Homo sapiens: one gene and its partner. The protein of the gene in region 2 purifies or fractionates together with the protein of the main gene of each other region. This does not show direct contact. Each region holds a gene or a part of one and is shown on either strand. Other genes may lie near its edges.

Evidence for each region.
Region 1: the proteins of PDS5B (region 2) and SMC1A purify together in Homo sapiens (affinity purification with western blotting; 8 studies listed by BioGRID and IntAct, with this or other methods). This does not show direct contact.

Annotation. Positions count from the first base shown.
Region 1 is NC_000023.11:53,373,491-53,377,797, forward strand, and holds the end of SMC1A (structural maintenance of chromosomes protein 1A), read right to left. Parts: 3' UTR 659-4,307; downstream 1-658. UniProt on the Homo sapiens protein: Involved in chromosome cohesion during cell cycle and in DNA repair. Central component of cohesin complex. The cohesin complex is required for the cohesion of sister chromatids after DNA replication.
Region 2 is NC_000013.11:32,771,444-32,778,744, reverse strand, and holds the end of PDS5B (sister chromatid cohesion protein PDS5 homolog B), read right to left. Parts: intron 5,557-7,301; coding exon 5,421-5,556; intron 3,729-5,420; coding exon 3,693-3,728; 3' UTR 726-3,692; downstream 1-725. UniProt on the Homo sapiens protein: Regulator of sister chromatid cohesion in mitosis which may stabilize cohesin complex association with chromatin. May couple sister chromatid cohesion during mitosis to DNA replication.

The DNA of each region.
Region 1 (4,307 bases), on a different chromosome or scaffold from region 2:
AACTGTGCTTAGGCAGCTCCTCTGCTTGGAATGTTTTTTCCTCCCTTTCCAAGTGGTAAGCACTCATTCCTCTTTCAAGACTCAGTTCAAGTGTACCATCCTCTATAAAGGCTTTCCCACCCCAGGGAGAACCACCTAATACTTCCTATATGCTCACTTTGCCTCACCTAGACGTCCATTATATCATCTTCCACACTTAGTGTGCTTAACCACTTACTTATCTGAGTTCCCAATTAAGCCAAGAATTCCTGGAGGGCATGTATATCTAATTCCCAGAACCTAGCACAGGGCCTGACACATGACAGGAATTTAACATATGCCTGCTGAACAAATGGATGGAAAAATGATGCATGAGTGAATACAGGAAAGAGCAAATGAACTGGTAAATGCTTACATTAATGCATTAATGAATAAGTGAGTGAAGTTGTGAGTTAGTGCATATATAAGGTAATAAATAAATGAGTGGATGAATGAATGATAAAAATAAGTAAGTGAATGAAAGGTGCCCATGCCAGTGAGGCAGGAAAGGATGAGTGAATTCCCACCTCTGTGTCTTGCTTCAACCCCACCAGGAAGACCTCTTGCCCTGCTTTCCTGTTATCTAAACTGCACACCAGTGTTAACCTTTTAGATTCCAAGGAACAAAGACACACACAGGTTAGTGATGGGGATTTATTAAAGCATTCACAGGGAAATAAGGAAGACAAGAACAGCTACACAGGCAGCCTCATGGAAGAACAGAAACTTGAAAATGGTTCATGATCCAAAGCAGCTCTAGAGCCTGGCTTATCTTGTCACCCCCTCAGCTGCAGGCATCTGTTGCTCCCTTCTCTAGTGCTTCCCAAATTGGTGACTCAACTCCTTTCTGGCTGTATTTATACTCCTCCTACTGCTACTGACTAACTTCTTTCTGCCCCCCTCGATGCTAGCCCATGGCTTTTTCTGCCTCATGGGTCCTGCAGCTTCATGGCTCCCGGCGCTTCAGTTCCTATTAATCCATGGCTTTTCTGCATTGTAGCTCCTGCTGCCTCTTCCATTCCTGTTGCCATGTTGCCACATGGTTCTGGCTACCTTGTGGTTCTTGCAGTCTCATCGCTTCTACTGTCTCATGATCTTATCTATTCAAGCCTTCTGCTGCTTTGTGGATCTCATAGTCAGTTTTGTCTCACGGTTTCTGTTCCTCGTGGCTCCTATTGCTTCATGGCTTCTAGCCCATTGTTGCCTTGCTGCTTCATGGCTTCTGCCACCCTGTGGCTCCGTGATCTCATTATACAAATGTCTCATGACCTCTGCTTACTTATGGTTTCTGCAGCTTTCTCTTTGCTTTTGCTGTTTAGTTTCTGGCCACCCCTCATCCACCACCACTAATGCCTCATTAAATTCTAATTAACGTTCACTTCTTCTGAATAGCTCACATTCTGCCTCCCTGAAAGATCTGGTTGTTTCATACATTTGCCATTTGATACATGCCACCCCTGTAAGGTGAAGTCCTTATGCCAGTCCAGCTAACAGGCCACTGGCCAGCCTAGAGATTGGTTGCCCTTGAACCAGACACTATCCACATCTAGCTATCTGTGGCCAGGATTGTGAGGTCACATGGTACAGAGCATGGCAACTTATGCTAAGGAAACCCCTTAGAAGGGACTGCAAGCATGGCAGGTTTGCTAAGGGTTTCCAGAAGGGGGCAGTGTAATTGGCAACCATCTTGTTTGACCTGTCCAATACATTGACCTTCAAGGTTCAACCTAAGTCCCACCTTCTCCCTGACCACCTCTGCCTGTCCTGATCTACAATGGGATAGATCAAGATCAAGACTCCAGAGATGACATAGAAAGGAAACCTAGCTTCCATTTCTGGCTCCAACACTTCCTAGCAGTCGGACCTTAGGAAGTTAATTCCCCTCTGAGGACCTCAGAAGGGGTTTGGGCAGTCTTCCCTTACAAGTCTGACATTCTGGGTATCTCACTATAAGTTATTGTATAAGAGATGTGACTCTTACCTGGGAAAGCCCTCAAAAACATCTCTTGAGGTAGGAAAGAGGGAGTCAGAGTCCTGGCTTGGAAGAGCCTTACTGCACACTGGAGGTGCTTAGCCAAGATTTATTGAACTGGATGAATGAATCAATGGCTTGTGGAGGGGTGGGGAGTGGGGGGGCAGTGAGAGACCACACAGCACACAGAATGTCTAACTAACTTGAGGAATTCCAGTTGCTGAGGAGGATGTAAGCAGATTGTTTCAGAGATGGATAAGGAAAGAGATGACTGGGACAGGGTAGGAATCATGGCTATTCATGGGTACTCATTCTATCCTCTCAGTCACCCTCCACATCCAATAATCAGTCATTAAGTTATCATCTTACCTTAACAGTTCACACCTTAACACCTCCAATCTATTCCTACTGGCCTTTGCCCTAGTGCAGGCCTCCTGGTCTTTTTCCAGTCTCCTAGCTAATCTTGTCATCTCCATTCGCTCTCTCACAAATGGATTCACTCATGCATTCATTCATTCAAAAACTTTACTGGGTGCCTGTTTTGTGTCAGGCACTGTGCTTTTTTGCAGGGGCTATACTGGTAAGCAAAATATCCCCAGGCCCACCCTTGTGGTGCCTAAAGCTTATTCAGAGACAAAATAAGCAAATATAGTAGTGTAAGAAGCTGATTAACAGGGAAGCTACAGGCACGGGCACATACAGCATGAACATCTAACCTAATCTGTTTTCCATGCTGGTTGGCTAGCCAGCCAGAAACAGGTTAAGTTCACATCTGATCTGGAGTCCCCCTATTAAAAACCATTTCATGGCTCCCTCACTGCCTTCAAGCTATGGTTTCCAAATCTGGCTGTACCCTAGTCATGTGGTAACCTTTATAAGCATTCAAGATTCCAAATCTTCACCCCAGACTTAATGAATGTTTTAGGGGCCGGGGCCCAGAATGCCGTACCTGTTTGTGGTATACAGCCAGTTTGGGAACCACACTGTCCTACAAAACAAATCTGAATTCTGTAGCCATGCATTTACGACCCTCTTCCAATCTGGTTCCTCTCTACCTTTTCTTGCTGCTTTCCCCCCACCCCAGGAATCTTCATGCTTCAGTATTTGTTTTGCTGTTTCTTGCCTTCATGTCTTCATGCATACTGTTTCCAATATCTGGAAATTCCTTCTACTTCCTCAACTGGCTAATTCCTACCCGTCCCTCAAGACTCAGTTCAGGTATCACCACCTAGACTACAGGATGCCTTCTCTGAATCTTCACATAAGCTAGATGTTTTTCCTGTGCTCCTGTCAGTGTTGATCACACTGTATGGTTAATGGCTGTTTTACAAATGGTTTCCCCAACTAAACAGTGAGCTCCTCAAAGGCAGGATAAAGATTTGACTCATCTTTGTGTTCCTGGTGCACAACACTGTGATTTCCAGAGGGAAGTGCCCAGTTAAACTTAAGATACTGTTGTGGAGTACTCTTCAACTCCCTACAGCAAGGCTACTGCGTCCACAGTATAAGGGAGTCAAACTAGTTCCTCCAACAAGCCCTAGGGAATCTACTCGGATCCAGCTTGCTCTTGGAAACACTGTGGTGCCCAGCCTCCCGTGAGCATAGCCTTGACAACGGTTGCCCTGTGATGCCAGGAGGTGGTGGGGCACGACAGGAGAGAGCAGGGGGCAAGCACTAAATAGATCCGAGTGGAAGTCTAGGCTCTGCCACTAAACCAGTGGAATCTTGGACAAGTCACCTCACCTCCTGGATCCTCAGGACTTAAGTCCCCAAAGCTCCTTTGTAGCACATGTGTTCCTGTGTGCCAGGGCCTTAGCCTAAGGCATCTCATGTAATCCTTTTTATCCTGTGAGGTAGGGGTTAGTTATCTGGGTTATTATCCATGCTGGCTGAATCAGATTTCCAGAGGTGGGACCAGAGCAATTTATTTTTAAAGAGCTCCACATCCTTTGGATGTGGGGGTGCAAGCAGGGAACTGCTGCTTCTCATTATAAGCCCTTCTGTACTATTTTATTTTTTTACCTGTGTATATATTGCTTTACTTTTTAAAAAGGAAAAAGAAAAAGCTTTACAAACGATTCTGATGCGCAGCCAAGGTTGATAACCACCTGTACAGTGGAGAAAGCACTTGAATGACTTGGAAGACCTGGGTTCAAACCTTTTTGGGCCTCAGTTTCCTTATCTGTAAAGTGGGGAGAACAGCAAAGGTGACCTTTAAAGGGCTGTGAATGATCTAGATGCCAGCCAAATTGCTTCATATATATTTAATTTTCTCTTTGCTTCACTACTGCAAGGTAGGTGTTTATTATCTCCTTTT
Region 2 (7,301 bases):
ATGTTGAAAATAAAAGGAAAAGTTTTATCATGCAAACAATAGCTGAAACAAAACTGATATGGCTACATTAATATCAAGCAAAGTAGATTAAAAATATTCATAAAGATACCAAGTGACATTTTAAATTATAAACCATATCACTTCATCATGAAGATATAACAATCCTAAACTGTATGTTTCAAAGTATATAAAATAACTTCTCCACCTATCATTAGTACTTTCTATCCTGCTTTTCCTTTTTTTCACTGCATTTTTCACAATCTGACATCATATATTAATTTTTTTTTTCTTATTCACCCACCTCTAACATAATGAAAGTACCACAAAAGCAGGGACTTACACTATCTTGATCACACTTTATCCTCTGCAAAACTGAGTAAAATTTTTGAGTGCCTGGCACATAGAAGGCACTCAATAAATGTTTGCTGAACGAATTAATAAAACTGCTACTGGCAACTTATTTATTTAGTGCTTATTTTTAAAGTTTATATTATACATTTATTTTGTTCAGTTACGCAATTATTCAACTTAAATAATACTTAGAATTCTCTGTCCGCCAACATTTTGCATGAGAAGTTTAAACAAAAGGTTTGGAAAAAGTTACTGAGACGTGTTTCCACTTCATGAAACAAAGGCTCCAAAATTAAAAATCATCAAATGTGCCTTTCTCCATTTAGTATTTAAATATATATGTTGATTTACATACACAAAATAATACAACTGTATTAGCTTTTATGTTTATTCAACTTCACAGAAATCCAAAAATGTGTCTGAAAATTGGTTATCTATTTAAATAGCAATTGTTCATTATGGTGACATAATACTATGTGATGGCAGAGATATGCCTAATTTAAACAAATTCTTAAATTCCTGACATTCTTACAAGTGGACAAAAGGAAATCTTAAAAATCAGACTTACAAGTTATAAGAAGATATAGAAAGCAATTTAACCTTTAATACCTGGAATAAGTTTTACAGCCACATTTGTAATTTACATATACAGTGAAGATCACTGAAAAAGCCTCCTGTTGCACTGCAGCAAGAAATTTTATTATAATGTAGATTAAACAAATTTGCTACAGAGTGCAGCAAGATAACCTCACTGAGGAATAAGATTTTCATAATGGAACTTGTTACAGGGAGTTAAATATTTTCTTAATGTTATACAGTACATATTTTCAAAATGAACATTATCACTGAAATAGTTTGCTAACAATTGTTAGCAATTAATGTTTTATACACACTTAATTTTACTGTAAAGTATGTGGCTCTCCAAATCTTACTACATGAAATGTTAAGCTTAAACGTAAGATAATCCCCTAAGATGGAGACTCAAGACATCAAAACTTTGATCATTATTGCACCTATTTTTCTACACAAAAAAAAAAAAAAAGAAAGAAAGAAAAGAAAAATTTACATCGTAATCCACCCAAAAAAAGAACAGACAGGTCGTAAAATTACAGACTCATTGGCATTGAACATAACAAAATCTACAATGAACATTTTTTTGTGAACTGCTGTACAGCATTACAAAAATGTGAAATGAAATTTGCTTAACTATAATCATGCAAATAAAAATCCTTCACAATCACTTTTTCGTATGTTTTATAAAATGTTCTTAATATTTCCATAAACATTTCTGGTGCAATTTAATCAATGACAAAAATACAAAGCTATTCCTTATTCTTTATGTTATAGATTTTAAAACATGCCTTTGTACTGCTGAAACAGAAATTATGTGTTTGGGAGAACCGAGCTAAGGAAACATTTCAAAACCAATGTATGTTGATCCCACCTGAGCTGCTTTGATATATGACAGCCTCTCATAATTACTGGTGTCACTATTGTTGTAAATGAAGAATAGTTGAATATGGAGAGATTAAGACACAATTCAAAACACTTTTTAAAAAATAAATGGCTGTTTCATAAACACAAACAAATCTTTAAAAGAAAAATAATCACATCAATTGCAATATACATTGGCAAATAGTAAAATGTCATTTTCCAAAATAGTAGCTTCTTTATTATATGCCCCATCTATTATAACCAATCTTGGAAATATATCTTAAACATAATGGTGTATCATATGAAAATGTTCCACTATTCAATGTGATAAATTTAATAAGTTAGAATATGATTTTTTCCCCTCTGGTGTTAACCATGAAAAAACATAACAGCACCTAAAATACTAAAATGAAATTAGGTAAGCATTAAGTAGTAACCTATATGTTTTGGTTCAAAATACAGTTTATACAACTGTATAAAGGATACTGCCTTAAGTAATTTATTTCTACATTTTGCAGATTACAATGAAGAAAAAAAAAGACCTGCTCTAAATCCAAATAAATTTCCACTTCTCCCAATCTGGACAAAGTGGAATTTCATTCAAAGTTCACAAGACTGTGACAACTACAGTAGCTGATATACTTGGATATACCACTTCTACGCTGCCCCCACCCCCCAGAATCAATTTTTTGGCTCCAAAATAAAGTACAATAATAAACTCTTGATGAAAAACTATGTTATGGGGCAATCTATCATATACTATGGCTAAATATGAATTTACAGAAAACAGCACATCCCATTTTCAGCACTTTTTTTCAAAAACATGCAACTCACTATAAAATACAAAACACTTGGCTTTCAAGAACAGCTTTATAAAGACACACTGCATCAATAAAATTTTTTCTTTCTGATTAACTTTACACTGTTACGGAGAACTGGAATATTTCTAATGTGTATATATCAGGTTTTATATTATAGTGTAATTTGCATTTTCTGAACATAACGTTCAAGAGGAAATATCTATACACAATAACATTCTAGACTATTAAAAACTCATTCAAATTACAGAATTTTATTGATACAGTAGATTAATAAAAACTGAAAGGATGATAAAATGGGATAAAGAATTCAGTACATTATTTTATAACACACTCTTTAAAATTAAAATACTTTAAATCTTTCTTCTTAAAATTTTCATTGCCATGAAAGGCCAGAAAATTCTGGGACAAATCAATACTGAGGTGTAAAGTAATCCAAGAACTTCAGGACTATTTCACAATTTGCATGGTTGTCCTCCTATCAGAGGCATCCTTCTGGTGTAATGGCAGACAATTTAGCACCTCTGAAGATTAAGGGTGCCCAGGAGTAAACACTAGGTAAGATACACAAAGGGAAGAGACCATTTAACTCTCCAACAAATAGTGACATCAAGAAAATGACACCAATTGTTGAAAACAAATTTTTTTTCACAGTAAAATTGCAGAGAATACAAATACAAACACTGACAGATTACTGCTTAAGATCTATCCTAACAAATTCTTTTCAAATCAATAGATCCAATAAACAGTCGGGTACTGTCAGTTTAAAGCCGCAGATAAAAGCTATACAAGCACTTCAGAAATCAGAAACATTAAAAAAAAGAAAAAAGATATTTACAAGTTTCTTCTTTATGTCTACATAGCCATCGCACATTACACTTTCACAAGACTCCATAGTCAATGTTACCATGTGTATGGCTAAAGCATGTGACCACAAATGTATGGGGTCACCAAAGTAAGGTCCAACTGTCCACTCTTCAGCAGTCCCATTTTGTGCATCAAAGGCTTTATTCAGCCTCAAGCTTGACCAAAAAAAAAAAAAAAGATTTTTCCAAAGCTTTCACAGAGAAAGTTATTAATTACATTTGTTCATCGCCGTTCCCTTTTAGCACTTCGCCGCCGTACCTTAAAAGGAAAGTCACCAGATGCTTAATTAAAATGGGTATATGTGCATAAGATATGCAGTAATCATTTTTAACTAATCTTTATTCTCATTTGTTCCTGATTTTCTTTGCTTTCCTTTCCCTGAAACTTTTTATCCTTACTTTCTGCCCTGGCATCACATATTTAGACCTCTATAACATTTGATCCCTTACAGGCTCACAGACTTCCCCAGAACAGTGAAAGAAAAAAATTATTTTACTTTTCTATCTAATAATTTTAAAGAGAAATGAACAGAAGTCAATGTCTACAGCAAGAAAAATAACTCAAACAGATTAATCATCTTTCTACTTATGTTTCCTGTGGTAAATGAAAACATTTCACATTTATGAACTTACATTATCTTTCTGGGAAAGCAGTTACTGAGTTTGGATCTTAACAATTATCAATACAGTAAAATAACCTAAAATTCAAACATATTATCATTTGCTGACAAGCACTAATGAAAGCATAAAACTTTAGTTCAAAAAATGTCAATATTAACAATAGGAATATAAAAGAGGGTTTTAATTTACATGTAGTTTTTCTCTGATGAAGACATCAATCGTTACTGACTCTTCAGACTTACTTTGATGTCCTCCCCAAAACCCTTTAAGAAACAAGCCAAACTAATTTGAGGTCACAATTATGCATATTTTCCTGTGTACTTAACTCGCTTATTCACAAATATGAATCCTGGTACAGATAGGAGTTCTGATTCCATTAAACAGGACAGAACAGCAGAGACCAATTCTGAGACTTGATTATAGAGCTTGGGTTTCTCAAACAAAGATAGGAGAAGAGCTTCTACTTAAATGTATTATGTTTTTTCCTAAGAGAAATATCTGAGTTGTATTAACTGGTAAAGTTATTTATTTATTACTTTAAAAGTCAAGAAGGGCCGGGTGCAGTGGCTGATGCCTGTAATCCCACCACTTTGGAGGCCAAAGCAGGCAGATCACTTGAGGTCAAGAGTTCGAGACCAGCCTGACCAACATGGTAAAACCCTGTCTGCACTAAAAATACAAAAACTAGTCGGGCACAGTGGCATTGGCCTGTAATCTCAGCTACTTGGGAAGCTGAGGCAGGAGAATTGCTTGAATCTGGGAGGCAGAGGTTGCACTGAGCCCAGATCGTGCGCCACTATACTCCAGCCTGGGTGACAGAGTGAGACTCTGTCTCAAAAACAAAAAAGTCAGGAAGTAACACATACCTACTTTTGCAAAATAAGTATGTATTACCAATTTTATGAATTCTCATTCAGCTCAAACTTCAATTCCAAAGGCTGATTTTATTCTGTGTAACTAACTTCTAATTTCTATTATGAAACCCAAATAGAAATACCAAACGGAGAGTTGTAAAATATAAACAACAGTATACTTAATGGGTATCAGTGCCCTAAAATCAAGGTACAACTTACATGCTTAAAGTGTCAATATTAGAATGCTGTACATTCAGTTCAGACTTGACATTTACATTCTCATTAAGCTACACCTATTTGCTTAGTTTCGGGTTTCCATAAAAGATGTTCTCCATTATCCAACCTGGTAGATAAAATGATGCTATGAACTAATGAAGTAAAACATATAAATACTAAACAAGTACTAAATGATCTAACCAAACATTTACTAACTCTTTTTATATCCCACACCACTCACAGAAACTTTGAACACATACATTTACTGTAGAAACTTCCTCCTCCTCTGTTTCTTCCTGTGGAATATCATCGACAGGAGAGCTACCCTGAAACACATCTACTTCTTCACTTGAATCATTTTCCTTAGTAGCTGCTTGTTTGGAGCGTCCTACACGGCTAGAGTAAAACACATGTAAAACACAATGAACGTTCCAATCTTTCAGTAGATTACCTCGTTAGAAGAAATGTTTCACGTATTTCATCGTCATATCATCTTTACCCTCAGTTACTTTATGAGACAAGAACATTTCTTTAATATTCTGAATCCTAAACCAGCATTTAATCATAGAATGTTACATATTATCTACCAAGTAACAACAAAAAAATGTGACTGAGAACATACCATAACCTAAAGTCTGCTCTTCCTTTCATCTTTCCTAACACAGTAAAAGGCATCTATGTCTACTGAGCTGCTCAAAGCAGAAAGGAATTCTGCTTTGAATATAGTGTACCTGTCTTTGTCTGGCCTTATAGATTCTTATGGAGATCTCAAATCCATTCACTTCTCTCCACATCTCCATTGCTACCACCTAATTCAAACCATTCCCATCTCTTGCCTCTTCTCTTTACAAAGTTATCTTTTAAAAGTACAAGAACAGATGATGTTACTGCTCCCTACTGAGCTGAGAATAATTTTGTAAACCTCCTTAACAAAGTATACAAGGAACAGTAGATGGTCCTTGCCTACCTGTCCACTCTCATCTCTTTCTGCTCCCCAACTCCCCACAACTACAATCCAACAAACCCTTGCCTTCCTTTAGCTTTCTGATTTTGCCAAGTTATTTTTCACTTCAGAAACTTCAAATATAGTGTTCATGCCACCTGTTCTCTGCCTGTCTAGCCCCTACTATTCTCAAGATATCAACTCATTGTTACTTTTAAAGAAAAAACTTCCTCACTCCATTAGATGGTGGAAAACAAGAACCACGAGCCCATGAAAACAAGTACCACGTCTGTTTTGTGTCCCTAGCACCTAGTACTCTCTGAAACACAGGAGGCATCAAAAAATATGTAATAGAACCATCTAATCAAATGGATCCCTCTTGATAAATCTTTATTTTTTAAAATTAGAAACATAACATCACTTCTATAAGCAATCCAAAATATGTATTTTTTTAACTCACGCTCGAACCAAACAATTTTTTTACTTGGTTTGGTTTTTCGAGATTAATGAAACTATAGAAATAACATGAAACATAATGACAATCTTTTTCAATTTCACTGAGGTCAGAACAAGAAAAAGAAACAAATCCTAACATATGTTAGTATACTAGCTCTAGAAAGAGCTTCCCAGTGAAAGGAAGATAGGCTTCCAAGACAGACTACAGAATCTTCTTCCATATCAATTTTTTTTTTTTTTTAAGAAATACTTGTTTGGTTTAGAACATTCATAGGACTTGTGTAATTTTAGGAGAGCACAATAATCATTTAAACCCTGAATTTTATGATGTCCAAATATAAACAAACTAAAATTATGAGGTTTGTTATTTCCTTGTTACATCATTCATGTGTATTTTATTAAATAAAGGATTCCTTAAGAATCCTTTGTTTAGAAATAGTGATTTGGTTGAATCCAAACACATTTATAAAGCTGCCACAAAAATGTACTTACCTTTACTTTTAACCTGATAGAAAAATTACATGGAAGATGGCATGAAGTACTGGCTAGACACCCAGGCAACTTTTCCTCTTCCTGTGGAATACACAGGAATAGGAAAATCTCTAAGATAATTGAGTATTTAATGACAGTACATTGGCAACTCTGAAAAGTCGAGCCATGATGTAATTATGTATGGGTGGGATTACTCTCAGAAAAAGTGTTAAATTTCTGACTAATAGAAGACATGCTACTCTATTTCCAC